2 separate regions of the Homo sapiens genome follow, and region 2 is linked to region 1. Evidence: fine-mapped expression QTL. A gene starts in region 1. The other region holds a variant in brackets. All regions are shown on one strand. Distances are from middle to middle. Region 1 holds the start of KLHDC2 (kelch domain containing 2). Region 2 holds the start of NEMF (nuclear export mediator factor).

Evidence for each region. PIP is the estimated chance that this variant, and not a neighbour inherited with it, causes the effect.
Region 2: its variant is fine-mapped to the expression of KLHDC2 in NK cells (Gilchrist 2021, PIP 0.95).

What each region holds. Positions count from the first base shown.
Region 1 is chr14:49,755,899-49,772,107 of GRCh38, forward strand. It overlaps KLHDC2 (kelch domain containing 2), which reads left to right and starts at 12,255. Exons shown (of 13, transcript NM_014315.3): 1 at 12,255-12,723; 2 at 15,696-15,775. The coding sequence starts at 12,571. RefSeq lists silencers at 11,655-11,714, 12,055-12,134, 12,305-12,484.
Region 2 is chr14:49,846,615-49,862,823 of GRCh38, forward strand. NEMF (nuclear export mediator factor) reads right to left here and starts at 6,174. Exons shown (of 33, transcript NM_004713.6): 1 at 6,081-6,174; 2 at 5,193-5,261; 3 at 4,949-5,051. The coding sequence starts at 6,139. LOC105378179 (a long non-coding RNA gene) reads right to left here. Exons shown (of 3, transcript XR_943839.3): 2 at 15,906-16,209; 3 at 13,280-15,702. It also overlaps RN7SL3 and RN7SL2. RefSeq lists enhancers at 6,181-6,420, 15,356-15,956 and a silencer at 7,224-7,283. The variant A/G (reference allele first, on the strand shown) is at 6,166.

The DNA of each region.
Region 1 (16,209 bases):
CTGCTTTTTCTCCTTTATCAAAGATCAGTTTACTATATTCACGTGGATCTATTCCTGAGATCTCCATTCTGCTGCATTTGTTTATTCTTTTGCCAGTACTATGCTGTCTTTAATACTGTCACTTTATGGCAAGTCTTGAAGTTGTGTAGTGGCAGTCCTCTGATGATGTTCTCTTTCAATATTTTAGATCTTTTGCATTTCCATATTAATTTTAGAATCAGTTTGTCAATATGTACAAAACAACTTGCTGGAATTGTTATTGGGATTGCATTGAATCTGTAGATCAAGTGAGGAAGAACTGATATTTATTTATTTATGTATTTATTTATTTATTTATTTATTTATTTGAGATGGAGTCTCGCTCTGTCGCCCAGGCTGGAGTGCAGTGGTGCGATCTTGGCTCACTGCAACCTCTGACTCCCAGTTTCAAGCGATTCTCCTGCCTCAGCCTCCCGAGTAGCTGGGATTACAGGTGCGCACCACTATGCCTGGCTAATTTTTGTATTTTAGTAGAGACGGGGTTTACCAGTTCGAGATCAGACTGGTCTCGAACTCCTGACCTCTTGATCTGCCCACCTCGGCCTCCCAAAGTGCTTGGATTACAGGCGTGAGCCACTGCACCCAGCCAGAACTGATATCTTAACAGTAAATCTCCTGTCCGTGAATATGGAATATATCTCCAATTATTTAGATGTTCTTTGAAGATTTTCATCCAAGTTTTATGCATATTTTGTTAGACTTATACCTATGTAATTTTGGGTGCTGCTAACATAATGCTAATGTGTTTTTAATTTCAAATTCCACTTACTCATTACTGATATAGGAAAATGATTGGCTCTTGTATATTAATTCTGTATCCTGAAACCTTGCTATAATTGCTTATTAGTTCCAGGAGGGATTTTCTGGTCAGATTTTCTACATAGATGATCATGTCATCTGCTAACAAAGACAGTTTTATTTCTTCCATCCCAAACTGTATAAAATTTCCTTTTCTTGTTTTATTGCATTAATTAGAACTTTCAGTATGATATTAGAAAGCAGTGGTGAGAGAGGGCATCGTTGCTTTGTTCCTGATCTTAAGGGAAAGCTTTGAGTTTCTCACCATTATGTCTTATGTTAGCATAGGTATTTTGTAGATGTTCTTTATTAAGTTGAGGAGATTCCTGTCTATTCCTAGTTTGCTGAGAGTTCTTATCATGAATGGGTGTTGGATTTTGTCCAGTGCTTTTCCTGTATCCATTGATGTGCTCATGTGATTGATTATGTAAATTGATTTTTTTTGTTGTTGTTGTTGAGACGCAGTCTGGCTCTGTTGCCCAGGCTGGAGTGCAGTGGTGTGATCTCGGCTCACTGCAACCTCCACCTCCCGGGTTCAAGTGATTCTCCTGCCTCAGCCCCCAAGTAGCTGGGATTACAGGCTCCTGCCACCATGCCAGGCTAATTTTTGTACTTTTTAATAGAGACAGGAGTTCACTACGTTGGCCAGGCTGGTCTCGAACTTCTGACCTCAAGTGGTCTGCCCACCTTGGCCTCCCAAAGTGCTAGGATTACAGGCATGAGCCACCGCACCTGGCCGTTAATTGATTTTCAAATGTTAAACCAGCCTTGCATATCTGGGATAAATCCTACTCAATTGTGGTATATAATTCTTTTTGCACAGGATTTGCTAATACAGATGTTCCACAACTTTTGTTGGTGTTAAGTCCCAATAAGCCCATTGTAAATTGAAAATATAAATCAAAAAATGCATAGTACACCTAACCTACCAAACATCATAGCCTAGCCTACCTTAAACAGGCTCAGAATACTGGCCAGGCATGATGGATCATATCTGTAATCCCAGCACTTTGGGAGGCCAAGGTGGGCAGATCATAAAGTCAAGACATCGAGACCATCCTGGCCAACATGGTGAAAACCTGTCTCTATTAAAATGCAAAAAATTAGCCAGGTGTGGCACCGGGCGCGGTGTCTCACGCCTGTAATCCCAGCACTTTGGGAGGCCGAGGCGGGTGGATCACGAGGTCAGGAGATCGAGACCATCCTGGATAACACGGTGAAACCCCATCTCTACTAAAAATACAAAAAAATTAGCTGGGCGTGGTGGTGGGTGCCTGTAGTCCCAGCTACTCGGGAGGCTGAGGCAGGAGAATGGCGTGAACCCGGGAGGCGGAGCTTGCAGTGAGCTGAGATCGTGCCATTGTACTCCAGCCTGGGCTACAGAGCGAGACTCCGTCTCAAAAAAAAAAAAAAAAAAAAAAAAAAAATTAGCCAGGTGTGGTGGCCTGCTCCTGTAGTCCCAGCTACTCGGGAGGCTGAGGCAGGGCAATCGCTTGAACCCGGGAGATGGAGGTTGCACTGAGCCAAGATTGGGCCACTGCACTCCAGCCTGGTGACAGAGCAAGACTCCGTCTCAAAAAAAAAAAAAAAAATGCTCAGAATACATATATTAGCCTATTGTTGGGCAAAATAATCTAAGACAAAGCCTATTTTATAATAAATCGTTGAATACAGTATAGTACAGTATTGGTTGTTTACCCTCATGATTGCATGGCTGATTGGGAGCTGCAGCTTGTCACAGCTGCCCAGCATAAGCGAGTATGATATTGCATATAACTAGCCCAGGAAAAGATCAAAAATCAAAATTTGAGGTACAGTTTCTACTTAATGGTTATTACATTCATATCATCATAAAGTCAAAAAATCCTTAAGTAGAACCATAGTAAGTTAGGGACTGTTTGTATTTTGTTGAGAATTTTTGCATCTATATTTATGAGGGGTATTAGTCTGTAGTTTTTTTTACCCTGTCTTTGCCTGGCTTTGATATTAGGGTAATGCTGGCCTCATATAATTAGTTAAGATATATTTTCTCAGGCTGGGCACAGTGGCTCACACCTGTAATCCCAGCACTTAGGGAGGCTGAGGTGGGTGGATCACTTGAGGTCAGGAGTTCGAGACCAGCCTGGCCAACATAGTGAAGCCCCGTCTCCACAAAAAATACAAAAAATTAGCCAGGTGTGGTGGCAGGCGCCTGTAATCCCAGCTACTCAGGAGGCTGAAGCACGAGAATTGCTTGAACCCAGAAGGCGGAGGTTGCAGTGAGCCAGGATCACATCATTGCGCTCCAGCCTGGGAGACAAGAGTGAAACTACATCTCAAAAAAAAAAAGGAAGAAGTATTTTCTCTGCCTCTAATCTTCTGAAAGAGATTGTAGAGAATTGGGGTGTTAAAGTCTCCAGCTATTTTTGTATTGGGGGTCTATCTCTCTCTTTAGCTCTACTAATATTTGCCTTAAACATCTGGGTGCTCCAGTGTTGAGTGCATAGATATTTAAAATTGTTGGCCAGGTGCGGTGGCTCATGCCTGTAATCCCAGCACTTTGGGAGGCTGAGGCAGGTGGATCACCTGAGGTCAGGAGTTTGAGACCATCCTGGCCAACATGGTGAAACCCTGTCTCTACTAAAAATACAAAAATTAGCTGGGTGTGGTGGCACACGCCTGTAGTCCCAGCTACTTAGAAGGCTGAGGCAGGAGAATCACTTGAACCTGGGAGGCAGAGGTTGCAGTGAGCCGAGATGGTGCCACTGCACTCCAGCCTGGCGACAGAGCAAGACTCCATCTCAAAAAAATAAAATAAAATTGTTATATCCTCTTGCTGAATTGACCCTTTTATTATTATGTAATGACTTTGTCTCTTCTTACAGTTTTTGTCTTGAAATTTATTTTGTCTGAATAAGTATAGCTTCTCCTGCTCTTTTGTTTGTTTGTTTCCATTGGCATGGAACATCTTTTTCCATCCCTTTATTTTCAGACTGTGTGTCTTTATAGGTGAAGTGCATTTCTTCCAGGCAACAGATCATTGAGTCTTGGTTTTTTTTTTTAATTCATTCAGCCACAACATGTCTTTTGATTGGAGACTTTAGTCTATTTACACTCAATATTATTATTGATAAGTAAGGACTTACTCCTGCCATATTGTTATTTGTTTTCTGGTTCTTTTGTGGTTTTCTCTTCCTCCTTTCCTTCTTGTCTTCCTTTTAGTAAAGATGATTTTCTCTGGTGGTATGATTGAATTTCTTGCTTTTTATTTTTTGTGTTTCCATTATATGTTTTTTTGATTTGAGGTTACCATGAGGCTTGCAGATACTATCTTAAAACCTATTATTTTAAGCTGATAGCTACTTAACACTGCTTGCATAAACAAACTAACAAGCAAAAAGTAAACTAATAAAACCTCTACATTTTAACTTAATTCCCCAGCTTTTTAATTTTTTGTCATTTCTATTTATTATTGTCCTATATATGTCTTGAAAATTTGTTGTAGTTATTTTTGACTAGTTCATTTTTAGTCTTTCTACTTAAGAGTAGTTTGCACACCACAGTTACAGTGTTATAATAGTCTGTGTTTTTCTGTGTATTTACTATTACCAGTGAGTTTAGTACTTTCAGATGATTTCTTACTGCTCACTGACATCCTTTTCTTTCTGATTGAAATACTCCCTTTAGCATTTCTTATAGGACAGGTCTGGTACTGATGAAATCCCTCAGCTCATGTTTGTCTAGAAAAGTCTTTATTTCTCCTTCATGTTTGATGGATATTTTCACTGGACATACTATTCTAGGGCAAAAGTTTTTTTTCCTTCAGAATTTAATTTTGTTTTATTATACTTTAAGTTCTGGGGTACATGTGCAGAACGTGCAGGTTTGTTACATAGGTATACACGTGCCATGGTGGTTTGCTGCACCCATCAACCCGTCATCTACATTAGGTATTTCTCCTAATGCTATCCCTCCCCTAGCCCCCCACCCCCCAACAGGCCCTGGTGTGTGATTCCCTGTGTCCATGTGTTCTCACTGTTGAACTACCACTTATGAGTGAGAACATGATGGTGTTTGGTTTTCTGTTCTTGTGTTAGTTTGCTGAGAATGATGGTTTCCAGTTTCATCCATGTCCCTGCAAAGGACGTGAACTCATCCTTTTTTATGGCTGCATAGTATTCCATGGTGTATATGTGCCACATTTTCTTTATCCAGTCTATCATTGATGGGCATTTGGGTTGGTTCCAAGTCTTTGCTATTGTGAATAGTGCCGCAATAAATGTGTGCATGTGTCTTTATAGTAGAATGATTTATAATCCTTTGGGTAGATACCCAGTAATGGGATTGCTGGGTCAAATGGTATTTCTGGTTCTAGATCCTTGAGGAATCGCCATACTTGTCTTCCACAATGGTTGAACCCCGGAGGTGAAGGTTGCAGTGAGCCGAGATTACGCCACTGCACTCTAGCCTGGGTGACGGAGCGAGACTCTCGTCTCTCAAAAAAAAAAAAAAAAAATTTATTCTTCTGTTTCCTCTGTGTATTTTCAAATAGCCTGTCTTCAAGCTCACCATTTATTTCTTCTGCTTGATCAATTCTGCTATTAAGAGACTGATGCATTCTTCAGTATGTCAGTTGCATTTTCGAGCTCCGGAATTTCCGCCTGATTCTTTTTAATTATTTCCATTTCTTTGTTAAATTTATCTAATATTATTCTAAATTCCTCTTCTGCATTATCCTGAATTTCTTGAATTTCGTTGAGTTTCCTCAAAACAGCTATTTTGAATTGTCTATCTGATAGTTCACATATCTCTGTGTCTTCAGGATTGGTCCCTGGTGCCTTATTAAGTTCATTTGGTGTGGTCACGTTTTCCTTGATGGTCTTGATACTTGTGGATGTTCATCAGTGTCTGGGCATTGAAGAGTTAGGCATTTATTGTAGTCTTCACAGTCTGGGCTTGTTCGTATCTGTCCTCCTTGGAAAGGCTTTGCAGCTATTCAAAAGGATGTGGGTGTTGTGATCTAAACTGTTATCTGCATTGGGGGGGATTCCGTGCCCTGTGAACTGTGGTTCTAGCAGACTAATAGAGGTGCCACCTTGGTTGTCTTGGATAAGATCTGCAAGAATTCTTTGGATTAACAGATAGAGACTCTTGTTCTCTTCCCTTACTTTCTCCAAACAAATTGAGTCTCTCCGTTCTGAGCTACCTGGAACTGGGGGTATGGTGATGCAAGTACTCCTGTGGCCACCACCACAGGGACTGTGCTGGGTCAGACATGGAGCCAGCACAGCACTGGATGTCACCCAAGGCCTACTGTAACCCCCACGTGGCTACTGTATAGGTTTCCTGAAGGCCCTAGGACCCAGGTGGCATGGTCAGCCAGGCTTTTGTCCTTCTCTTCACAGTGGACCTTTCTCTCTTTCTAACCCATTACACTTAGGTTACACCTTTTGTGATTGTGCCACAGTTATTGGATATTCTAGGGGAGTCTGAGGTGCCTTTTTTTTTCTTTTTGGTCTTTTTTCTCTTTGCGTTTCAGTTTTGGAAGTTTTATTGACATACCCTCAAACTCAGAGATTCTTTCCTCAGCTATGTCCAGCCTACTAGTTAGTTCATCAAAGGCATTCTTCATCTTCGTTACAGTTTATTTGATCTCTAGCATTTCTGTTTGGTTCTTTCTGAGAATTTCCATATCTTCTCTATTTACCTTACCCATCTGACTTAAGCAATCCTCCCACCTCAGCCTCCTGAGTAGCTGGCTGGTTCCACAGGCGCATGCCACTATGGCCGGCTAATTTTTGTATTTTTTGTAGATAACAGTGTTTTGCCCTGTTGCCCAGGCTAGTCTTGAACTCTTGGGCTCAAGCGATCTGCCTGCCTAGGCCTCCTAAATTGCTGGGATTATAGGGGTGAGCCACTGTGCCTGGCCATTACCCATCTGTTCTTGCATTTGACTACTTTTTCCATTAGAGGCTTTAGCATATTAATCATAGTTGTTTTAAATTCCTAGTCTGATAACTTCAACATTCCTGTCTTATCCGAGTCTGCTTCAGATGCTTGCTCATTTCTTCACACTGTGTTTTTTGTTGTCATTGTTTTTTTTGAGAGAGTCTCACTCTGTTGCCCAGGCTGGAGTGCAGTGGTGCGATCTTGGCTCACTGCAACCTCTGCCTCCCAAATTCGAGTGATTTTCCTGCCTCAGCCTCTGGAATAGCTGGGATTACTGGCATGTGCCACCACACCCGGCTAATTTTTGTATTTTTAGTAGAGACAGGGTTTTGCCATGTTGGCCAGGCTGGTCTCAAACTCCTGACCTTAGGTGATCCACCCGTCTCGGCCTCCCAAAGTGCTGAGATTTCAGGCATGAGCCTCCACACCCAGCCCACGATGTTTTGACTTTTATTATGCCTTGCAATTTTTTGTTGAAACCTAAACATGATGAGCTGGGTGAAAGAAACTCTGGTAAATAGGCCTTCTGTGGTGTGGTAGTAAGAAGTGTGGGGAGGGAAAGCATTCTGTAGTCCTATAATCATCTGTCTTTTTAGGAGCCTGTGCCCCTGGACTATCAACTTCACCCCAGTTCTCAGTTTTTCCCCCACTTAGGTGGAACAGAATGGCTAGAGGCGGCTGGAATTAGGTATTTTCCTTTTGCCAGGTAGAGTAGGCTTTGATAAAATAGTTTCTCCTGAGGCAGCCCTTGTTAAGAAGAACTAGCATATTTCAAAATGGTTCCTTTTTCCTTACCCTTGCTGGAAGCATGAGATAATTTTTCTCTGATATTTACTGTAAGAACCTAAGAGACCTCCTGGAGGTAAACTCAAAAAAGTGTGAGGATCGTCCTATGACTGGGTCCCCCGGAGTTGTGGTTTTGTTTATTTGTTTGTTTTTTTGATACAGGGTCTTACTCTGTTGCCCAGGCTGGAGTGCAGTCATATGATCTCAGCTCACTGCAGCTTCCTGGATATAAGCAATTCCTGTGTCTCACCCTCCCTAGTAGCTGGGACTACAGGCAAGTGTCACCAAACCCGGCTATTTTTTATATTTTTAATAGAGATGGGATTTCACTATGTTGATCAGGCTGATCCCGAACGCCTGACCTCAAGTGATCTGCCCACCTAGGCCTCCTAAATTGCTGGGATTACAGGCATGAGCCACCACACCCAGCCCCCTGGAGTTTTTAAGTCTAAAACGTGTTCACACTGAGCCTCCAACAAGTCATCAATTACTGTAAAGTTTTTATGCTCCCAAACTGGTAGCTCAGAAGGTTTTTGCTCATGGGTTTCTGCTTTGGTAAATTGTGATTCTCTGTATTCACCCATCTGTCTCTGCAGTTTGACAGGCAGTGGTTTGCACTGTGACCTCACTTCTCTGATTGATCTAAGAACAGTTGTTGATTTTTCAGTTTGCTCAGCTTTTTGTTTGTTGTTAGGATGGAGTGGCAGCTTCTAAGCTGTTTACATGCCAGACTAAAAACTGGAAGTCTTGGGCAGGGCACAGTGGTTCATGCCTGTAATCCCAGCACTTTGGGAGGCCGAGGTGGTGGATCACTTGAGTTCAAGAGTTCGAGACCAGCCTGGACAACATGGTGAAATCCCCCATCTCTACCAAAAATACAGAAAAGTTAGCCGGTGTGGTGGCACACGCCTGTAGTCCCACCTACTTGGGAGGCTGAGGCGAGAGGATCGTTTGAGCCTGGGAGGTGGAGGTTGCAGTGAGCCGAGATCACGCCACTGTATTCCAACCTGGGTAACACAGTGAGACCCCACATCAAAAGGAAGAAAAAAAAGAAATTGGAAGTCTTACAAGAGTATTTTTTTCAGCAAAAGATTTTTTTGCACACATTCTGGATTATGATTATAATGATAGCATTATCAATCATTGAATTTCAAATGACCTATAGTGGATTTTTAAGAATTTTATTATCTTTACAAAGAGACTTTTATTCTTAAACTAACTTCAATTGTCTCTTCTATTTTTATTTGATAAGATGTACAATTTATAGGCAGTGATTAAAAGGTTGGAGGTCCTTTGTTGTTTTTGTTAAGATAATTGAGGGATATTAAAATGAAGGAAGTGAAAATGTCTGAGTATCAATATAGATACACATACAAAGTAGGATAAGTAATGTACTCTAAAGTTGTCAAAGGCCTTGAAATTTTTTTGATTCTATCCCATTTAGGTCAAAATTAGAAAATTTTCCTCAAAAGAAAGTGATTCTGAAAACAATATGCTTTTGCTTTTTTTTTTTTGAGATGGAGTCTCACTGTATTGCTAGCTAGAGTGCAGTGGTATGAGCTCAGCTCACGGCAACCTCAGCCTCCCAGGTTCAAGCGATTCTCCTGTCTCAGCCTCCGGAGTAGCTGGGACTACAGGTGCAGGCCACCACGCCCAGCTAATTTTTTGTATTTTAAATAGAGATAGGGTTTCACCATGTTGGCCAGGATGGTATCAATCTCCTGACCTCTTGATCTGCCCGCCTCACCTCCTAAAGTGCTGGGATTACAGGCGTGAGCCACCGCGCCTGGCCACAATGTGCTTTTGCTTTTTAAAATTAAGTTGCTGATTGTATGCCAGCCATGATCAGAGATGGCTGTTAGCTTGAGAACTGTTTAGTTTAGGACCCCTTTACACTCTTAAGAATTATTGAGTTCCTCCAAGAGCTTTTGTTTATGAGGATTTTATCTATAGATATCTGCCATATTAGAAATTAACACTAATTTTAATTTAGTTTAATGTTTAAATTTTTTAATTTATTACAAAATAACAACAAAATTGTTAACATAAATAACATTTTAAATGAAAAATAACTTTATTTTCCTAATCAAAAGAATTTCAAAAAGAATGATATTGTTTTGCATTTTTATTTTTATTTTTGAGACAGAGTCTTGCTTTCTCACCCAGGCTGGAGTGCAGTGGCATGATCTCGGCTCACTGCATCTTCCACCTCCCAGATTCAAGCAATTCTTCTGCTTCCACCTCCCAAGTAGCTGGAATTACAGGCGCCCACCACCATGCCTGGCTAATTTTTCTATTTTTTTAGTAGAGACGGGGTTTCACCATGTCGATCAGGCTGGTCTCGAACTCCTGACCTCAAGTGATCCGCCCACCTCAGCCTCCCAAAATACTGGGATTATAGGCATGAGACACTGCGCCAGGCCGACTTAAGTGAAGAAAATCTGGCCTCACACAGATACATAGTTAGAAAAGAGAGTTCCTTAAGGAGCCCCTGAAAAGGTCTCCAGGTACCCACGGGGCTTGGAACTATACTTTGATACACTGAGAAACTCTGCTTATAGTACAACTAATTAATGTGTTTCAGAGACTCTTTTTGTTGTTACTGCTCTAAGTAGGATAAAAGTATGGTTTGAAACATAAATAAGTAAATCAAAGTGGATATTATAGTATTTTATTAAATGGCATATATATACGAAATATAGGCTGGGTGGGTGCGGTGCCTCACGCCTGTGATCCCAGCACTTTGAGAGGCCGAGGCGGGTGGATCACCTGAGGTCAGGAGTTCGAGACCAGCCTGGCCAACATGGTGAAATCCCATCTCTACTAAAAAATACAAAAATCAGCCGGGCGTGGTGGCAGGTGCCTTAGTCCCAGCTACTTGGGAGGCAGAGGCAGGAGAATCGTTTGGACTCGGGAGGCGGAGGTTGCAGTGAGCCGAGATCGAGCCAGTGCACTCAAGCCTGGGGGACAAGAGCGAGACTTCTCTCGAACAAACAAAAAACAAAAACGATGATAGAAGGGTAATGTAGCTGGAAGGAGGACACAGCCAGGAATTGAAGCTGGAAAGGCAAGCTGGGTCTGGACCATGCTGGGTCTTCTTGCACAGCACTGTGATATGAATTTTTTTTTTTTTTTTTTTTTTTTTTTGAGACGGAGTTTCGTTCTTGTTGCCCAGGCTGGAGTGCAATGGTGCCCTTTTGGCTCACTGTAACCTCCGCCTCCCGGCTTCAAGAGTTTCTCCTGCCTGAGCCTCCCAAGTAGCTGGGATTACAGGCGCCGGCCACCAAGCCTGTGTAATTTTTTTGTATTTTCAGTAGAGACAGAGTTTCGCCATTTTGGCCAGGCTGGTCTCGAACTCCTGGCCTCAGGTGATCCGCCTGCCTCGGCCTTCCAAAGTGTTGGGATTACAGGCGTGAGCCACCGCGCCCAGCCGAGATATTAATTTTGGATTCTACTAAGGACGACGGGAGCCAGCTCAAGGTTTTTAAGTGACTCGATCAGATTCACGAGGTTGGTTCACAAGGAACTTCGATAACCCCAAAGTCTAGTGAGCATAATTCGACTGGGAGAAGACACTGCTGCAAGGAATTCTGTGAACCAGACAGATTTGAGGGCACCAACCAGGGTGGATGGCAGATAAGGTCTTAACAGCCTCAAGGTGATTTGCTTCCTTGTTGAAGGCTTTAATTAATCCTCTTAAGTAACTTTCAAGTTCTTGAGTTCAAGTAAACACACTGGCACACTAGGGGAGGAGTGGCAGGCTATAAGCATTTTAATAATTAAAAAAAAAAAGCCTTTTATTGTTCAAAGTGTTCCTTTTCTATGGAGTGCTCCCAACCAGAAGATGAGGGAAATGGAGATAATGAAGCACGTCCCTCCTACCAAACACGATAAATTCTACAGGCACTGTAAGATCAAGAATTTAAGATTATTTTTGTCCCACCCTATTTTACAGGTGAGGTATCAAGCACAGTAACTCGTAATTTTCTTTTGGCCCAATTGAAAGGTATCATATAAGAGAAAGCTGTGTGTGCGTGAAAAGGATCCGCCTTTCTTTCTGAAGAAAAGGGTGGTTACGGCTTCGGAAACGCTTTTCAAGCCAACTCTGCAGCCCGGCTGGCGGCGGCAGCGGCGGCGGCGGCAACGTCAGATTCCCGCAGAGGCGGCGCCCGGCAGGGGCGGCAGGAGCTCAGGAGAGGCCCCCGGGGATCGGGCTGGGCCCCACGTGAGAGCTAAGCGACTGCCCTCGCGCCCGCAGAACAGCAGGGCCTGCATCGACTCTAAGGCGAGACCAGAAACTTGCTAGTGGAGCAATTCTGGTGCCCCTGCCCGGGCTGTGAACCCTCTGAGATCATCCCTCAATCAAACGAATAGAAATCCTCGGGAAGAAAAAAAAAATTGCGGCAATCCGGCTAAAATTCAGCAGCTTTCAGGGACCGATTCAGGACATTATCCCTGTGGTTCCCTCAGTGAAAGGAGACTCGAAGCGCGACTAGAAGTCGCCGGGCCCCATAGATCTGCGGTGCCCAGGCCGTAGGCGGAGGCGCGGGCAGAGGCGGCGGCGGCGGCGGCGGCGGCTGGAGGACCCGGCGCTGGGGGCGCTGAGCGGCAGCCTCGCTTCCGGAGCTCGGCGGGCGGCGTCAGCGGAACGGGCGGCTTCCGGCCGCGGCGTAAACAAGGCCGTGGACTGCAGGAGGCGGGGCAGACGGGCTGCAATAGGGAGCCGGCCCGACGCGGACCGCTTCCCTGCAGTGCCCCGAGTCCCGGGCCCGCGCCGCCGCCGCCCGGCTCCGCTCGCGGCCCCTCTGTCTGCAGGCGTGCCCCGGCGGCGGCGGAGAGCCGTCCTCGGCCGAGGAGGCTGGGAAACGCGAGCGCAGGCGGCAGAGAGGCCTCAACGCCGTCCCTTTCGCCACCGCCTTTTCCTTGCCTCGCGCCGCTGTGCATTTCTCTCCTTTTCCTTTGTTTTTTTGGCCCCTCGCGGGTGTGGGCATTGTTGGTTAGCAAAAGTGCAGCCTCAAGATGGCTGATGGCAACGAGGATCTGCGGGCTGACGACTTGCCTGGGCCAGCCTTCGAGAGCTATGAGTCCATGGAGCTTGCCTGCCCCGCTGAGCGCAGCGGCCACGTAGCCGTCAGCGACGGGCGCCACATGTTCGTCTGGGGCGGCTACAAGGTCAGTGAGTGGCCGGGCCGCGACGGACGTCGCTCGGCTGTGACTCGGGTCTGCGTTCGCGGCCAGGCGGGGAGGCCAGAGCGGGCCGCCGAGGGCGCTCCCCGCCTGCGTCGCGCGCCCCACCTCAGACTCTGCCCGTTGGTTGTTTTTTTTTTGCGCGCGGGAATCTTCCTTCTCTCGAGTACCCCAACCCGTCTCGAACCTCCAGGGCTGCTGTCATGTCACCCTGGTGCTCACAAAGCCAACTCACTCCCACCCCCGTTGTTGCCATTGGAGCGTTATTCCGGGGAAGGCCCTGTTAATGTTGCTTGGGCGGTGCATTCGGAAGGGTTGGGGTGTGAAAGGTGACGGTGTGTGATATCACTCAGACGCGTTATGAGGACGGCCTACGAGGACTTCACCCTCTGGAGCTGGGAACCGCTGCCCACTTACAGGGAGGCCGAGGTGTAGGAAAACTGGAATTCCAAAAGGTTACAGGAACCACCTTATTCAGCCTTCCCGCCTGTGCAAATGGCCATCAGGACTGTTTTCCTTCTGGCTTCAGCTGGGTTGAAGTTTTTCAGCAGACACCCCTATTAAGATAATGGAAAAGCTCCACCAGTAACCAAAAAATCCCCAGCATCAAATGAACTACAGAGTGCAGCTCTTTGACTCTCCGATCCCCTGGTTATAAACAACGTGATTAGTTAGCAGTTTAAAGCCAGTTGCCATTCTTTACCCTGCTAACCTCGGAAATCTAGAATTTTATTTGCTAGGATGGCTCTGAGCCAGTCCTACCACAAAATTCCTCTTTGGTCTTGAAAATGTTCTCCGCCCTCCCCACGCCCGTGCCTTGGATGACTTGCTTTGTGATTGTTTTTAGCTTATGGTACAGCTGACTTGATCATAGTTGACCATTTTTGAGATAGCTTTCAAAGATGGCTGTCCTGATACTTTATTTTGGTTTAACTGCAAAAGTAATTTTTTGCCAATCCTAATGAATCTGCAGTGTTTTCCCCAGTTTCCAATGAATGTGGTTAGAAAATAGAAAGGGGGCCGGGCGCGGTGGCTCACGCCTGTAATCCTAGCACTTTGGGAGGCCAAGGTAGGTGGATCAGCTGAAGTCAGGAGCTCGAGACCAGCCTGGCCAACATAGTGAAACTCCGTCTCTACTAAAAATACAAAAAAAAAAATTAGCCTGGCGTGGTGACGGGCGCCCTAATCCCGTCTACTTGAGAGGCTAAGGCAGGAGAATCACTTGAACCAGGGAGGCGGAGTTTGCAGTGAGCTGAGACGGCGCCATTGCACTCCAGCCTGGGCAACAAGAAGGAAACTGTCTCAAAAATACTTTAGAAAGGGGTAGAGAATTGCAAGAAGGGGGGCGGGGGGGCAAGCATGTAGTCACCCTTATAAAAATGTAAATTAATTCCCCTGGAGAAACCTGTCAATGACACTTCTAAGCTACCTAATTCATAATTGTATTTTTAAAATGACAGCATGAGAGAATAAGACTTTGGGAGTGGGGCAGGGGAGGATTCTTAGTGTGGAATATTTCTTGTGGATTTAAAAGGGCCTGGATGATTGGGGCCGATTCAGGGAGGAGCAGCACAATCACTGAATTGGATGGTTCTGAAACAGACTGCCCTCCCCATTTATGGCTGGTGGCTGGAACCCTGAGGGTAGGCACAGAAGTCCTTGGAGATTGTTTCAAAGGCAATAAACCTTGGCTTCCTACATAGTAGGCAGTTTTCCTCCCCAGGACAGGCTGGTCCCCTGTGGGTCAGCCCGCTTCCAGCCTTTCCCTTCATCACTGGTGGGGTGGAAAAAGAAGTTGTTTTACGTGGTCAACTGTTCTGTTTCTGTATGTTTAATATTCAAGCTTGCTGGACTTTGACACCCATTTTTGGCTAACCGCAGTCGTTTACTGTGTCAACATTGTTCAGAAAGTGGCTAGGGAGGGTCAAAGGCTGGGAATGTCAGGCAGTTGTTAAAGTTCAGGGAAAGGATAGAATCCTGGCTCCATCATTACTTCATAAATAACCTTGGGCAAATTACTTAAACTCTAAACTTGTTTTCTCATAACATCAGCTACTTTTTAGGGTTGTTGTGAGGATTAAATAAAGCAATCCATGGATAGCTTTCAGCTGTGGCATATGGTAGGCTCAGTCTGTGTTAGGAATTAATACCTGAAGGGAAATGGAGCAGAACAAAGAACTTAAAATTCTGCATAAGGATTTAATATTTTGCATATTTGCAGTTCTGCCCTCTCTATTGCTGCTTAGAGAATGGATAGGTGAAAGGAAGGCATGGCTAGAAAACCACGCATCGTGTTAGCGTGGATCAGGCACTTTCAGTAACAGCCTGCTGACCATGGCACAGGCAGTCTCCTGAAGTCATGCAGCTGAAATTTGGTGCATGGTTCTGTTCAGGATAAAGCTGCCTTAGAGAGTTCCCAGAGATCTCTTGGCTGGGCACAATGGCTCACAGCCTGTAATCCCAGCACTTTGGGAGGCTGAGGTGGGTGGATTGCTTGAGGTTGGGAGTTTGAGACCAGCCTGGCCAACATGGTGAAACCCTGTCTCTACTAAAAATACAAAAATTAGCCAGGCGTGATGGCGAGTGCGTGCAGTCCCAGCTACTTAGGAGGCTGAGGCAGGAGAATCACTTGAACCCAGGAGGTGGACATTGCAGTGAGCCAGCCAAGATTGCGCCACTGCACTCCATCCTGAGCAATAGAGACTTGGACTAAAAAAAAAAAAGTTCCCAGAGATCTCTTCTTGTCCTATTGCAACTGCTGTATCAAAATTCTGAATTAAGAGCTATCTATGTTGAGCTTTACCTTGAGTGTGTGGCATGGGTGGGGGAGGATTGTGCACTGTAATACCTATTTTTCATACTAATTATGAAATTAGTATCTCAAGATCGATTTAAAAAATACAGTAGTGCCTCTTTAAAATACCAGTTTTTATATTTACAATTTTTTTTATTCTTAGAGTAATCAAGTCAGAGGATTATATGACTTTTATCTGCCTAGAGAAGAACTATGGATCTACAACATGGAGACTGGAAGATGGTAAATGTGGATATTATAAGGGGGACTAAAAAATTCAGATAAGGGCTGGGCACGGTGGCTGGCTCATGCCTATAATCCCAGCACTTTGGGAGGCCAACGCGGGCGGATCTCTCGAGGTCAAGAGTTCAACACCAGGCTGGGGTGAAACCCCATCTCTATTAAAAATACAAAAATTAGCCAGGCATGGTGGCGTGCTAATTCCAGCTACTTGGGAGTCCGAGGTGGGAGAATCGCTTGAATCTGGGAGGCGGAGGTTGCAGTGAGCTGAGATCGAGCCACTGCACTCCAGTCTGGGTGACAGAGCAAAACTGTCTCCAAAAACAAACAAATCAGATATGGCTGCAAAGAAAAAAATGTAAAACACTTTCTAAGCTACTTATATATTCTAAAAACACTGTTCTGCTACTTTAGCTTAGCTGCTAAGCTTAATTTAG
Region 2 (16,209 bases), 91 kb after region 1:
CCACTATCCCCAGCTAATTTTTTCATTATTTGTAGAGACAGGGTCTCACTATGTTGCCCAGGCTAATCTCAAACTCCTGGGCACAAGCAATCCTCCTGCCTTGGCCTCCCAAAGTGCTGGGATTACAAGCGTAAGCTACTGAGCCAGGCTTTTATTTTCAATTTTTAAGTAGAGAATGATGGACCTATAGCAAAATTTGCTTTGTTGCTTTATACCACTGCTAAATTCCTTGTTGTGGTCCTAATGACCTCACTCATAAGCCACAACCTTTATTTATTTACTTTATTTTGAGAGAGAGTCTCGCTCTGTCGCCCAGACTGGAATGCAGTGGCACAGTCTCAGCTCACTGCAACCTCCGCCTCCCAGGTTCAAGTGATTCTCCTGCCTCAGCCTCCTGAGTAGCTGAAATTACAGGCGTGTGCCACCACACCCGGCTAATTTTTCTATTTTTAGTAGAGACGGGGTTTCACCATGTTGGTCAGGCTGGTCTCGAAGTTCTGACCTCGTGATCCGCCCACCTCAGCCTCCCAAAGTGCTGGGATTACAGGCATGAGCCACTGTGCCCAGCCAACCTTTACTTATTTATTTATTTATTTATTTATTTGGAGACGGAGTCTCACTTTGTCACCCAGGCTGGAGTACAGTAGCACAATCTTGGCTCACTGCAACTTCTGCCTCCCAGGTTCAAGCAATCCTCCTGCCTCACCCTCCCAAGAGTAGCTGGGACTACAGGCGCCCACTACCACGCCTGGCTAATTTTTTGTATTTTAGTAGAGACGGGGTTTCTCCACGTTGCCCAGGCTGGTCTCGAACTCCTGAGCTCAGGCAATCTGCCCACCTCGGCCTCCCAAAGTGTTAGGATTACAGGCGTGAGCCACCACACCCAGTCCCTTTATTTTTTTTAAGTCTCTTTGATGACACTTCTAAGTATGCCAAATTTCCCTTTTGTATGCTTCATTTATGTTCAAAATTAATTAATTGTTTCCACTAATCTTCTACTTCTAATACATATCAACTATGGACCATGAGCTTATGGCTTATGGTATCCTGTAAATAGTCCACCACCTTATATCCAGTTACCCCTACCAATTCTTTTTTTTTTTTTTTTTTTTTTTTTTTTCTTTAAGAGAGTCTTTGCCAGGAGCGGTGGCTCAGGCCTGTAATCCCAACACTTTGGGAGGCCGAGGTAGGTGGATCACTTGAGGTCAGGAGTTCAAGACCAGCCTGGCCAATATGGTGAAACCCCATCTCTACTAAAAATACAAAAATTAGCTGGGCGTGCTGGCGCATGCCTGTAATCCCAGCTACTCAGGAGGCTGAGGCAAAAGAATCGCTTGAACCCAAGAGGCGGAGGTTACAGTGAGCCGAGATGACACTACTGCAATCCAGCCTGGGCAACAGAGCAAGACTCTGTCTCAAAAAAAAAAAAAAAAAAGAAAGGGACAGAGTCTCTCTGTTGCCCAGGCAAGGCTCAAACTCCTGGACTCAAGCAATCTCCCACCTTAGCCTCCCAAGTAGCTAGGATTACAAGTGCCCTGCCACTGTGCCCAGCTTATTCCTACAAACTTTACTAATATAACCCAAAGAGAATTTTCCTGGTATCGTCTCTAAGCTTTTGATAACCTATTTCAATCCAATGTAATAACTCTCATTCTTTATTAAATCCCCTTCCTCCTATCCCTGGCCATAAGGTTCTTTTTCTTATTAACAATTAAAATAATATTAGTATATCAAATCCAAATACAATTTACTTGGCAATACCTACTCTTTTAGATTACATGTACCGTCTTTTTGTACAAATATTGAAGTATGACATGGACTGGTAACAAGACTACTCTGTAGCCTCTAAAATATCTTACAATTGTTTCTAATTTTTTAATATAAAAGACCCTTTAGTTAAGACCAATAAGAAAGAATGCTTTCTTCAAGACTCAAATACGGTCTGGGTATGGCAGCTCACGCCTGTAATCCCAGCACTCTGGGAGGCCGAGGCAGGCGGATCACAACGTCAGGAGTTCAAGACCAGCCTGGCCAACATGGTGAAACCCCATCTCTACTAAAAATACAAAAATTAGCCAGGCATGGTGGCGTGTGCCTGTAATCCCAGCTACTTGGGAGGCTGAGACACGAGAATCACTTGAACCCAGGAGACTGAAGTTGCAGTGAGCCAAGACTGCGCCACTGCCCTCCAGCCTGGTGACAGAGCAAGACTCCGTCTCAAAAAAAAAAAAAAAAAAAAAGACTTAAATACGAAACAAATTTTACAGAAGTTAATCTAAGACCACCTTCAAAAAAAAGACAAAAAATCCACTCCTTGACAAAGGTTGAAAAAAAACAACAATAAACACATAAATTCATTATTAAAATTAATGCTAACATTTTCATAACTAAGAAGAGTTCTTCTCCAGACCTTATAGCCCAAATTGACTGAAATTCGCATTTTATATACTCACATAGGCAGAATAACTTCCTAGGATAAACAATCTGCTCCTCCTTAACTCAGTAGTTTTAAGAATGACCTATACTGATTTGATTAAACAGTAACCTACATGTAGGGCTATCTTTAAATCCCTAGAGGAAAATCACAATCAGTTCTTCCAGAGTCCCTGAGTAATAATTTTATTCAAGAAAAATAAAGACAAAAGGCATCATTGAAAGGACAGAAGTTCACACAAAGGAATAGTAAAAAGGGGATTATTTATCATGGAGAGTACAGATGGACACATAGTACATATTTAAAGCTTGTTTCATTTCCCTATCAACAGCTTGGTGAAATCAACCTGCTGCTGTGTGCCACAAAGCTATAGCTGTCATCCCCAAATGTGAATACTGGAACAACCACTGTGATTTATCACATAATAGACATAACTCTGCCTGTGCCATGCAACAGTAACAGCTCTTTGATTTATAAAGTGCTTAACATTGTCTGCTCCATTGAGGAAATCTTTCTATACATTTAGATTGACACGTACACCTAACCCATAGAATTCTAAGTATTTTTTAAAGTGACTGACCTATTAGTGTAGTCTGATTTGGAGATGTTTACACAATCCCAGTGTCCTATTTCATTGGCCTGTTACCTCATCCATAAAACTGAAATTGTATTTGTTCTTCACAGTCCACTGAGTTGCTAAACAACTTAAATGAAATACATATTATTCATCTGCCTTAAAAAGTGCTACACAACAGGTAGCATTATTATTGTCATTATTATTAAGGACAGGCCCCAAAAGAACTATTTTGGGTTACTATTAAATAAATTAAACTTTAATAATCTGAGAATTTTGTGAAAGCCCTTGTGATATGGAAACACTTACCTAATTTGTAATCCAAAACAGACTCTAAATTGCTGGGGGGTAAAGCTCTTCTCTGTAAAGCCTCTAATGAAATAACTCAATGCCATAACAGATACATTGCCAAAGTAAGGAGCGGAGCAGGAAGGAAATGAACATGTATGGAGTTCTAATATGTGTCAGGTATTGTTTCAGGTGCCTTTCTTTTTTTTTTAGATGGAGTCTCGCTCTGTCGCCCAGGCTGGAGTGAAACAGTGCGAACTCAGCTGACTGCAATCTCTATCTCCCAGGTTCAAGTGGTTCTCCTGCCCCATCCTCCCAAGTAGCTGGAATTACAGGTGTGTGCCACCACGCCTGGCTAGTAGAGACAGGGTTTCACCATGTTGGCTGGGCTGGCCTTGAACTTCTGACCTCAAGTGATCCACCTGCCTCAGCCTCCCAAAGTGTTGGAATTACAGGCATGAGCCACCGCACCTGGTCTGTTTTAGGTGTTTTATATATCATTTCAATTAATCCAATAATTTCATGAAGGAGGTACTATCCACATTTTACATTTAAAGAAACTAAATTCCAAGAGGTTAAGTAACTTTTCCAGGTTATAAAATTACTTTCTGACAAAGCTATTAATTCAAAGTTAAGTATATGTGACTCGAAAGTCTCGTGTACCACATGAATTTTCAATCTATATGTTACATCAATAAAAGAATGGGTAGCATGCCCACCCATGTAAAAATCTGTTTTAATAGTAAAAACAAAACAGAAAAATAAAAAGACTTAGTAACATATTAATGTCAGTGAGTATTCCAAAAAAAAAAAAATACTGACTGGGTACAGAGGAATACGACTCACAAAAGTGAGCTCTGGAAGATAAGACTAGGAAAAAAAGGTGGGGCAGGGAGGAGAAAGAACACAGAAAGCCAAGAATGTTAGGCTATAGAATATGGATTTAGAAATCAGGAAACCATAAAAGGTGAGGTAACTAATGAAAATTATACTTTAAAAAAATTAATGTTGGGCCAGGCGCGGTGGCTCATGCCTGTAATCCCAGCACTTCAGGAGGCTGAGGCTGGCGGATCACCTGAGGTCACGCATTTGAGATCAGACTGGCCAACATGGTGAAACCCCATCTCTACTAAAAATAGAGAAATTAGCCGGGTCTGGTGGCACACGCCTGTAATCCCAGCTACTGAGGAGGCTGAGGCAAGAGAATCACTTGAACCTGGGAGGCAGAGGTTGCAGTGAGCCAAGACTGTGCCACTGCACTCCAGCCTGGGTGACAGAGCGAGACTCCTTCTCAAAAACGAACAAAAAAACAAACAAACAAAAACAAAAAAATTAACGTTGGTCTAATTTAGAATTGTTTTGATGCAGAGAAGTGAATTACAGTTAAGGAACTGTAAGGCTGAATGTGATAAAAGCTTGAACTCTAATAGTGACTGTGGAAACAGAAGATCTGGAGCAGAACAGGATGTGAAAGGTAATGGGGAGAAATCAATTAATAAATATTCACTTTATTCAACCCATTATCTGTCAACCACTCCCTTTACCTTCATTTTATCTGCACTTTATTCGTAACAGTGAAGGAAACCCCAATTAAAAACTTAATTGTTAGTGAGCAATCTCTTAAAATTTAGCTTCAAGCGTAACAAGTTTACCTTCATGGCAAAACTAGACGGCATCATATTCTTAGGCCACTCAAATTCTGTTGTATGAATTCGTATGCCAGATTCAAGTAAAAGTGTAGCTTTAAAGTCCGGTCTGTAGAAGAAAAAAGTCGAATTTTTCTTTAGGGTATATGCCAAAGCTAATTGCTAAACAGGCTTAAAATGTAGGTTAAAAAAAATCAGTAATCTCATACTTAATTGTCAAAGAGAAAATAAGCCTATAAAATGTTCTTACTTTTGAAGACGAATAAGGTATGTCTTATTATCCACATCATAAACATTGTTTACTCTCATTCCTAGCAAGCTGCAAAGATAAAGGAAACATGTAACATGTTACACTATTGTCTGAAACATAAAACTACACATAATTTAATAAAAGCTTCGAAAGAGCGGATCTCAGTCTCTAAGGATATGGAGTCAGCCGAGGAGCAGAGTCTGAAAGCCATTTGGAGATTCAGTTCAAAACTTAAGAGTAACGATTTAAAAACAGAAGTGGTCTATCAGCTCTAGGAACAACACACTATAGCTTGCGTCTTCCAAATGACCCAATTTTGGGGGAGAAATACAGTAAAATATAATCCAATTAATTTATTACAAGGGAGAAAAAAAAAAGATAAAAGAGGGCCCCGAAAATATGACAAAGCTCACAGGGCTGAATAATAGAATCCAGACTAGAATCCAGATCTCAGTCCAAATCTGCTCAATCCAGCTAAAACCGCGATGCTCTCTCTCTCTCTGGGGTGAGGGGAGGGAGGTGTTCAAGAAACCAAGCCCCCAGTCTGGAAACCTCTGAAGCAAACGACCACTCTGGCGTCTCGTGTTTTAACAAACGTTTCCTGCCCAACCCGGACAACCCAGGCCAACAATGCAAGAGCTTCGCGCTAGCGGGGCAAGCCAGAGAGCTGGGAGGACGCGGGGGATGGGGCACGAGGTGCCTGGGACCCCCAGGGGTATCCTAAGGGTCACGGGAAAGACACCACACGCCTGCCCACTCAGGCCTAGGCAGGTCCATAGACGCACTAGGAAATAAGGAAACATATCAAGCTGGTCTGTTTGCGCCATGGGACTCCGGCCTCTGCCTCCTGCACTCCCCACACGAGCCTCGTCACTTAGGGTACTGTACCTAGCATTCAGCTCCGCGAGTACGGCGCGGAGGTCAATGGTGCTAAAGCGGCTCTTCATGGCGAGGCCCGAGGGTCACTACCGCA[A/G]GTTCCTCTACTGCCCGGCCGGACTCGACGCCACTTCTCCTCCGCGCAGGCGCACTTGGCGGAGCTCTACGGCCGCGCAGAAGACCCAATATTCCTCGAGGCGAACGTATTTGTGTCGCTTTTCTGAAGATTTCGATTGTCAAGTTGCAGCTGACTCTCTTCATTGTACCAAAATTCAAATTCGAATAAAGATTCAAACTGTTCTCTTGAAACTGCATTCCTTCCTGGAACCCTTACGGACCAGTCTGGTTACCGTGCCCCATTGTGTCTTGGGCTCAAGTCAGCCTTCATAGTGACCCCTGCTGGTCGAAACAATTTTCGAGATGATTATCAGGAGTATTTCCCCACAGGGGGGCCGTAGGGCTCAGTGTAGAAGAGCAAGGACCCCTTTCTGCGCGCTTACTTTGACATAAGATTTTGAAATGTAACGAAACGGAACTGCTTCGGTCCTTCTAAGATTATCCTCAACGATCGAGGCGAACTCTCAAAACGGAGTTCCTATTTTGATGGGTCCTGCTCTCGGAAGGAGCATTCTGCAATTGATTACAGGATTCTCATCGAACCTCGGTCTTGGTACCCCTGAGACTCACCGCAGTACCTGGTGTACAATCGGTGCTCCATAAACACTTGGCAGCATGAATGTGCAAGTGTTTAGCTAGATAATGGTGAAATAAGATAAAAATAAAAACAAGAAGATTCCCAATGGGGGTGGGGTGGGAGGGGGGATTCACAGTGTAGTGAGGAAAATAGTCCTGTAAGAATGTAAATTCTGCATTTCTTTTGTCTTAGGATAGATGCATGGGAAGAAAGGCTACTTTATAAGGTGAGAACTCAAAAGAGGCAGGGTCTCACTATGTTGCCCAGGCTGGAGTGCAGTGGCTATTCACAGGCGCAATCCCACTACTGATCAGCACGGGAGTTTTGACCTGCTCCGTTTCCGACCTGGGCCGGTTCACCCCTCCTTAGGCAACCTGGTGGTCCCCCGCTCCCGGGAGGTCACCATATTGATGCCGAACTCAGTGCGGACACCCGATCGGCATAGCGCACTACAGCCCAGAACTCCTGAACTCAAGGGATCCTCCAGCCTCAGCCTCCCGAGTAGCTGGGACTACAGGCACGCGCCACCGCGCCCGGCGCTCGGCGTCGCTGCAAAAGAGCTGCTAGAGGCTTGCAGGCTACACATGGTAGCAACCAGAATTCCTACCACCAGAAGGCGACTCTAAACAGAAAGGGCGCCGCTGCTATTTCAGAACTGGTACCAGTAGATGCAAAAATGGCTATAGCACATACTGCACAGCATTACTGTCATACGGTACAGTAAACCATACAGAATGGCCCAAAATATGAAAGCATTGGGGAGAAGGTGGAGAACAGGGAACTTTTGTATGCTGTTGATGGGAATGTAAATTAGTAGAGCCATTGTGCAAAACAGTATAAAGGCTCCTCACAAAATTAAGAATAGAATTACCATGTGATCTAGCAACAACATCACTATCCTGAAGATATATGTTCATGTTCATTGCAGCATTATTCACAATAGCCAAGATATAGGGATAATCTACTTTTCATCAATGGATGAACGGATAATGAGTGCAAATATATATGTACACACACACACACACACACATACATACATACAGTGGAATATTATTCAGCTTTCAAAAAAGAAATAAATCTTGCTGTTTGCAACTGGCATGGATTTAACAACATGGATGAACCTGGAGGACATTATGCTAAGTGAAATAAGCCAGACATAAAAAGACAAATACTGCATGATCTCACTTATACGTGGAATCTAGAAGTTTCTCATAGAAACAGACAGCAGAAATGTGGTTTCCAGGACTTGGGATGTAGGGGAAATGGGAAGATACTGGTCAAAATGCACAAACTTTCGGTTGTAAGTAGAGTAAGTTATGGAGACTTAATGTACAACATGCTGATTATAGTTCATAGTAATGTATTGTATGCTTGAAATTTGCATGGGAACAGAAAACCAAATACCGTATGTTCTCACTTATAAATGGGAGCTGAATGATGAGAACACATGGACCCATGGAGGGGAACAGCACACACTGGCGCTTATCAGAGGGTGGAGAATGGGAGGAGGGAGAGGGTCAGCAAAAATAACTAATGGGTACTAGGTTTAATACCTGGGTGATGAAATAACCTGTAAAACAAACCCCATGACACAAATTTACCTATATAACAAACCTGCACATATACCCCATGAACTTAAAATAAAAGTTAAATTAAAATAAAAAACAGAAATTTGCTAAGAAAGTGGATATCAAATACACACATACAAAGTGTGAGGTTATGGATGTGTTAATTGGCTTGATTGTAGTAATCATCTCACAGTGTATACATACATCAAAACATCACATGGCTGGGCCGGGTTGCTCACACCTATAATTCCAACACCTTGGGAGGCCAAGGCTGGCAGATGGCCTGAGCCCAGAAGACCAGCCCGGACAACATAGTGAGGCCCCCTCACCAATCTCTACAAAAAAATAAAAAAATTAGCCAGGTGTGATGGCATGTACCTATGGTCCCAGCTACATGGGAGGCTGAGGCAGGAGGATCCCTTCAGCCCAGGAGGTCAAGGCATGGTGGCCATAATTGTGCCACCACACTCCAGCAGGAGCTTCAGAGTAACACCCTGTCTAATAAAAAAAAAAAAAAAAAAAAAAAAAAAAAATTGGCCGGCTGCAGTGGCTCACGCCTGTAATCCCAGCACTTTGGGAGGCCAAGGTGGGTGTATAACCTGAGGTTGGGAGTTCAAGATCAGCCTGGTCAACATGCTGAAACCCTGTCTCTACTAAAAATACAAAAATTAGCCGGGCGTGGTGGCAGGCATCTGTAATCCCAGCTACTTGGGAGGCTAAGGCAGGAGAATCACTTGAACCCAGGAGGTGGAGGTTGCAAAGAGCCGAGACTGTGCCATTGTACTCTAGCCTGGGCAACAAGAGGGAAACCCTGTCTCAAAAAATATATATATATATAATATTTATATATATAGATATATGTATAATATATTTATATAATATGTATAATATATTTATATAATATTTATATAATATGTATAATATATTTATATAATATATAACATATTTATATATATATACACACCTCAAATATATGCAAATTTTATTTGTTCCCATAATTCATTTTACACTACTATAACAGAACACCACAAACTAAGTAATTTATAAAGAACATAAATTTAATGCCTCACAGTCCTGGAGACTAGGAAGTCCAAGATCAAAGGACTGGCATCTTGAAAGGGCTTTCTTGGTGTTACATCCCATGGTGGAAGAGCAACGAGAGAATGAGAGAGACAAGAGGACCAAACTCATCCTTTTATAAGGAAACCATTCCCATTTCTTTTTTCAGTAGCCCGAAACTGAGCCCCAGGCACTGTCTTATATAAAATATTTTAGTCTCTTATAAGCTTAGCATTAACCATCACTATGTTTGGCCTCATCAATAGATGTCTGGAATCTAGAATGAGAGATGGGATTTTTCAGTCCTATGCTTAGAGAGTAAATCAGAGATAGAATACATTGTTGTGTACTGGGGAATCATATTTTCCCAGAAAGACATACAAATGGAACAAACAGAATAGTGGAATTCAATTGAAACCATGTAATACAAAAAATAGTTGTGGTTCTTCTGGGTAAAAATAATGCTAAATTTGTTATTTATAACCCCAAGGGTTAAAGAAAGTACTAATGAAAAAATTTTAGGGCAATGGATTAAATCTTAACATAAGGAAGAACTTTCCGGTAGTAAAGACCGTTCAAATATTATTTAGAGATATATTCAGGCACTAAAAACCATTAAGAATAACAAGAGAATGCCACGAAGTCAGAATAGTGGTTATTTCTAAGAGGAAAGGTACTTGGGTGCGGGTTTCTGGGATGCAGGCAAAGTTCTATTTCTAGATGCCAATTATATAGTTTCTCACTTTATAAATTCCTTAAACTTACATTATGTGTATGTCTTATGCACAGTTTCATATGTACGACACAGCTCACAAAGTTTAAAAAGCAAAACAGCCAGGCACAGTGGCTTGCGCCTGTAATCCCAGCCCTTTAGGAGACTGAGGCAGGTGGATCACTTGAGCCCAGGAGTTTAAAACCAGCCTGTGCAACATGTTGAAATCCATTCTCTACAAAAAATATAAGAAACTAGCCAGATGTGGTGGCATGCACCTGTAGTCCCAGCTACTAGGGAGGCTGAGGTGAGAGGACCACCTGAGCCCAGGAGGTTGAGGCTGCAGTGAGCTGTGAGTGTGCCACTGCACTCCAGCCTGGGTGACTGAGTGAGACCCTGTCTCAAACAAAACAAAACAAAATAAATTTTAAAATGAAATTAAAGAGGCTGGGCACGGTGGCTCACACCTGTACTCCCAGCAATTTGGGAGGCTGAGGCAGGCGCAGATCACCTGAGATCAGGAGTTCGAGACCACCCTGGGCAACATGGTGAAACCCCATCTCTACTAAAAATACAAAAATTAGCCAGGTGTGGTGGCACATGCCTGTAATGCCAGCTACTGGGGAAGCTTAGGCAGGAGAATCACTTGAGCCTGGGACGTGGAGGTTGCGGTGAGTCAAGATCGCAACACTATACTCCAGCCCGGGTGACACAGCGAACGAGACTCTGTCTCAAAAACACAACAACAACAAAACCAAGAAGTTAAAGAGTAGGTATGATAGAAATTAAAAATGGCCACACATTCTTTAACACTCATGAAGTAGGTTCTGTTTTCTTCCCATCTTTGAATCCAGGGTAGCCTGTGATTCCTTTGACCAACAAAGCGTGGTAAACAGAAGTGATACTATGCTATTTTTGGCTCTAGCCTTTAATAAGACTTGTAGCTTCCAGTTTGGCCTCTTGAAGCTTGAGTTACAATGTTAGAAGTCTAATACCCTACCGTAGAGAGGCATTGAGACTACAGGGAGAGGAAGAGGAGCATGTCTTTACAGCCAAGCCTGTCAAGGCAGAGGCATGTGAATTCAGTTATCTTGGGCCCTACAAATTAGACCAGCCACCAGCTGAATACCACAATCAACTTCGCCTGGAGCAGAAGAATGTTCAGCTGAGTTTTGCTACAAACTCCTAACCCTCAAAGTCATGAAACCTAATAAAACCTAGTTGTATTCTCAAACTACTAAATGTTGGAGTAGTTTGTTATACGCAATAAATTACACAAAAATAGGCAGATTTAAGCAAATACATTAAAAAAGAAAGTAAGGGCCGGGTGAGGTGGCTCATGCCTGTAATCCCAGCACTTTGGGAGGCCGAGGCAGGTGGATCACGAGGTCAGGAGATCAAGACCAGCCTGGCCAAGATGGTGAAACCCCTTATCTACTTAAAAAAATACAAAAATTAGCTGGGCACGGTGGCAGGCGCCTATAATTCCAGTTACTCGGGAGGCTGAGGCAGGAGAATCGCTTGAACCCAGAAGGTGGAGGTTGCAGTGAGCCGAGATTGCTGCACTCTAGCCTGGGTGACAGAGAAAGACCCCGTCTCAAAAAAAAAAAAAAAAAAAAAAAGAAAGTAAGAGTTCCGCTATATTAAATTTGGCCTAAGGCTGCTGCTGTACCTTGAGTCCCTTAATACTGAACAACAATCCAATTTGGTACGTAAACAAATAGAAAGCTTACGAGTATATTCTTGTAACAAATAGCTGTCTCAGCCATCACAGCTGCCAAGCTTCAGCTAATCATAGGCTGTTAATTGAGCAAATCATGTCCAAATAAGGCAAATACTTGGCTGTAACCAATCAAGCTGTTTCAGTATCTCACTTCCCTTCTCTATCTGTGAATAGTCTCTGCCCACAATGTGGAACGCTCTGAATCTCTTCTGGTTCTGAGTGCTGTCCTGTTCATGAATCATTCTTTGGTCAAAAAACTCTGAAAAATTTAATTTGTCTGAAGTTTTTTTTTTTTTAACAGTTCTCATATTACTAGTAAACAAATTTAACCTGGGCATGGTGGCATGTGCCTATAGCTCCAATTGCTTGGAAGGCTGTGGCAAAAGGCTTGAGCCCAGGAGTGAGGCTGCAGTGAGCTATGATCTATGATCATGCCACTGCAATCCAGCCTGGTGATGGAGCAAGACTCCATCTCTTAAAAAAAAAAAAATAGAGTTTTAGAATAAGAAAACATTGTTTTGTACAAGGAATATTATTTTATTTATGTATTTTTTTTTTTGAGACAGAGTATCACTCTGTCACCCAGACTGCCAGACTGGCTCGGCTCACTGCAACCTCCACCTCCCGGGTCCAAGTAATTCTCCTGTCTCAGCCTCCTGAGTAGCTGGGATTACAGGCGTACACCACCACACCCAGCTAATTTTTGTATTTTTAGTAGAGACAGGGTTTCGCCATGTTGGTCAGGCTGGTCTCAAACTCCTGACCTCGTGATCCGCCTGCCTCAGCTTCCCAAAGTGCTAGGATTACAGGCGTGAGCCACTGTGCCCGGCCTAGGATGTTATTTTTAAATCAGTGAAGTACATACTCTAAAAGACAAAAGTCATAAACATTTATGTGAATATTTATATCCTCTTGGCATGGGTGAGACCATTCAAAGCAAAACACCAAAAGCAGAAAACATAAATGATTAGATTAACAGATCTGAATACATTAAAGGGGTATTATTTTTGTTTTGTTTTGTTTTGTTTTTGAGACCGAGTTTCACTCTTGTTGCCCAGGCTGAGAGTGCAATGGCTCACTCTTGACTCACCTCAGCCTCTGCCTCCCAGGTTCAAGCGATTCTCCTGCCTCAGTCTCCCCAGTAGCTGGGATTATAGGCATGTACCACCACACCTGGCTAATTTTGTATTTTTATTACAGATGGGGGTTTCTCCATGTTGGTCAGGCTGGTCTTGAACTCCCGACCTCAGGTGATCTGCCCGCCTCGGCCTCCCAAAGTGTTAGGATTACAGGCGTGAGCCACTGCGCCCAGCCCATAAAAGTTTAAAGTCACTATATGTCAAAAATATTCCACCATAACCCTAATCTTAACCCTAAACATAATTAAAAACTTAAAAGTGTAGTCCACACACACGCACACACACACACGGAAAAAAATATCAATGTGAAAATGTGTTCAACTTAAAAGTTGTTTTTTTTTTTTAAAGTATAAGTATGTTAAAGAACACAGTTACTGGCTGGGCACGGTTGAGGTAGGTGCATCACTTGAGGTCAGGAGTTCGAGAAGACAGTTACTGAAAGGATACCTTTCTGACCTCTCAGAGTTTTGTCAGTTACAGACTGAGCTTGATTCCCCCCATGTATTACTTTCCTATTCTGTGGTAATTTGCTGTATCAAATTACCACAAATTTAGAGGCTTAAACAACATAAATTTATTATTATTATTATTGAGATGGGGTCTCACTCTGTCCCCTTGGCTGGAATGCAGTGGGACACTAACAACTCACTGCAGCCTCAACCTCCTGGGCTCAGGTGATCCTCCCACCTCAGCCTCCCTGGTAGCTGAGACTACAGGCACATACTACCACACATGGTTAATTTTCATATTTTTTGTAGAGACAGGGTTTCACCATTTTGTGCAGGCTGGTCTCCAAATCCTGAGCTCAAGCAATCCACCTTCCTTGGCCTCTCAAAGTGCTGGGAATTACAGGTGTGAGCCACTACATGCGGCCAAATTTATTATTTAAGAGTTCTGGAGATCAGAAGTACCAAATTGGTGAAGAGGGCTGCATTCCTTCTGGAAACTCTTGAAGAGAATCCCTTTCCTTGCCTTTTCCAGCTTCAGGGGGCTGTCCACATTCCTTGGTTAGTTAGCACATAGATATCTTTGGGGAGGGGGTCATTATGCTGCCTATTGCACCTCAGTTCCACAAAGCTGAGTTATCCCAGAGGTCATGGTACTCAGGAAGTAGGAACCCCAGGGCTAATGGAGGCAGCTACTCAAAAGCAGTTCTTACATCCATAGCTAAGTCATTCTGGGTCCAATTCAGGGATCCATTTAGTGAAAAACAAGAGATACAAAAATTAGCCGGGCATGCTGGTGTGTGCCTGTAATCCCAGCTACTCGGGAGGCTTGAGGCAGGTGAAGCGCTTGAACCCGGGAGGCAGAGGTTGCAGTGAGCAGAGATCGCTCCCCGGAACTCCAGCCTGGGAGACAGAGCAAGACTCTGTCTCAAAAAAAAAAAAAAAAAGATATACCAAAATTATTTTGCTTCTTATTTTAAGGTTGGTGAGAAGGTAAAGTTTTTTTTTTTTTAAAATAGCATCTCTACCTATTTTCATTTTGTAAAAATGCATTCATTTGGAGGTGATTTTTTAATTCTTGAAAAGTTGTCCTGAAGAACCGGAATCAGACCTATTCCATGTGGTTGCAGAGGGCAGACCCAGAAGCAGCCATGGGGGAGATACCTGTTTTATTCAAAGAGGATCTTTTCTGACAGTTATCCTTGTTCAAAATGCAATGAACTACCTCAAAAAAAAAAAAGGGAATACAATTAGCTTTATAAAAAATTTAGTACAATGCTTCTTTCCTCTTTCATTTTATAGACAGTGAGGAAAATCTGTGTTTAGTGCTTAGAGTCTTTAAACTCCCAGTAGATTATCAGATTAATGTTAAGACTGATGTGAATGCTTAACCAGTTTCCACTGGCCCTAAAATGCCTGAATTTAACAGTAAGCCCTCCAAAACAGTTATTTCATATAGATGAAATTTCTAATCACAGACCACCAAGAACTTTTGAAAAATTTAAAGGTTGTCTTCTTTCATAGCTTACTCACTTATTTCTGTTTTTAAAATGAAGCATGATTATGAGACATGCTCAAGGACAGCTCAGTGGAGGATGCAGAGGTTTTTGCTCTCATTAACACTGGGTTCAAGACCCAGGCGGCTGGGCGCGTTCTTTAAACTCCCTTTGCTTCAGTTACTTTTCGGCGTCTAGGTGCCGTTCCCTTTTTGGCAATCCGACGGAGAGAGAAGCAAGCGAGGAGACAGGGTGGTGCATTCTGCCACGCTGGCCCCTCACCTCTGTCATCACAGGGCGTTCTGGGTTCCTCTGAGAGGAGTTTTTCCCTTATAAGGAGGCAGTAGTGGGATTCCTCTTCGGAAGATTAGCCCTGCCTGTAGCCAAGTAGAACGAAAGGATTTGTGTGTAAGACTGTTGATTAGCCCGTCTTTGGTCTATAGCATTCTAAAGCAAAAACCTTGACAGGACAGGGGTGAAAGAAGGTGACATCCGTGACAGGAGGTAGGCAGGGAAGCTCAGGTCAGCTCAGTGCAGGGGAATAATGTTGGTAACTGCAAGCAGCATCCTGAACGGCCGCGGGAAGAACTTGGAAATTCTTTAAGAGAACGTACTTTTTGCTCTCTGTGATCCGGCGGCCATTTTTTTCCGACTGTCTGTGGGTAAACGAGCAGCCCCTGTTGGCTCCGAAGGTAATAACAGCTTTTCGCAGAGACGTTTTGAATATGCGCCGGTAGGGGGCAGCGATGAGGCGGTTGCAAATCCCCAAGCATCCCGTCAACTGGTGAGCTTTCGCGCTGAAGGAAACGTAAAACAGTGGATAAATATAAGAGTGGAGAGAGAAAGCCAACTATAAACCTCAGTAACATCTTTCTCTATATATTTTTTCCTTTAGAGGAAGAGAGGACTCGTCTTTAAATGTGCACATTAGTATGTTTCTTAATACGTATGAACCGGAAAGGAGGCAAACTTCTTAACTTCAAAGACACTATTTACTTACAAAGGTACCCTTAATGAGGGAGGGGGGCAAAAGAGACGGGGTCTCGCTATGTTGCTCAGGCTGGAGTGCAGTGGCTATTCACAGGCGCGATCCCACTACTGATCAGCACGGGAGTTTTGACCTGCTCCGTTTCCGACCTGGGCCGGTTCACCCCTCCTTAGGCAACCTGGTGGTCCCCCGCTCCCGGGAGGTCACCATATTGATGCCGAACTTAGTGCGGACACCCGATCGGCATAGCGCACTACAGCCCAGAACTCCTGGGCTCAAGCGATCCTCCCACCTCAGCCTCCCGAGTAGCTGGGAC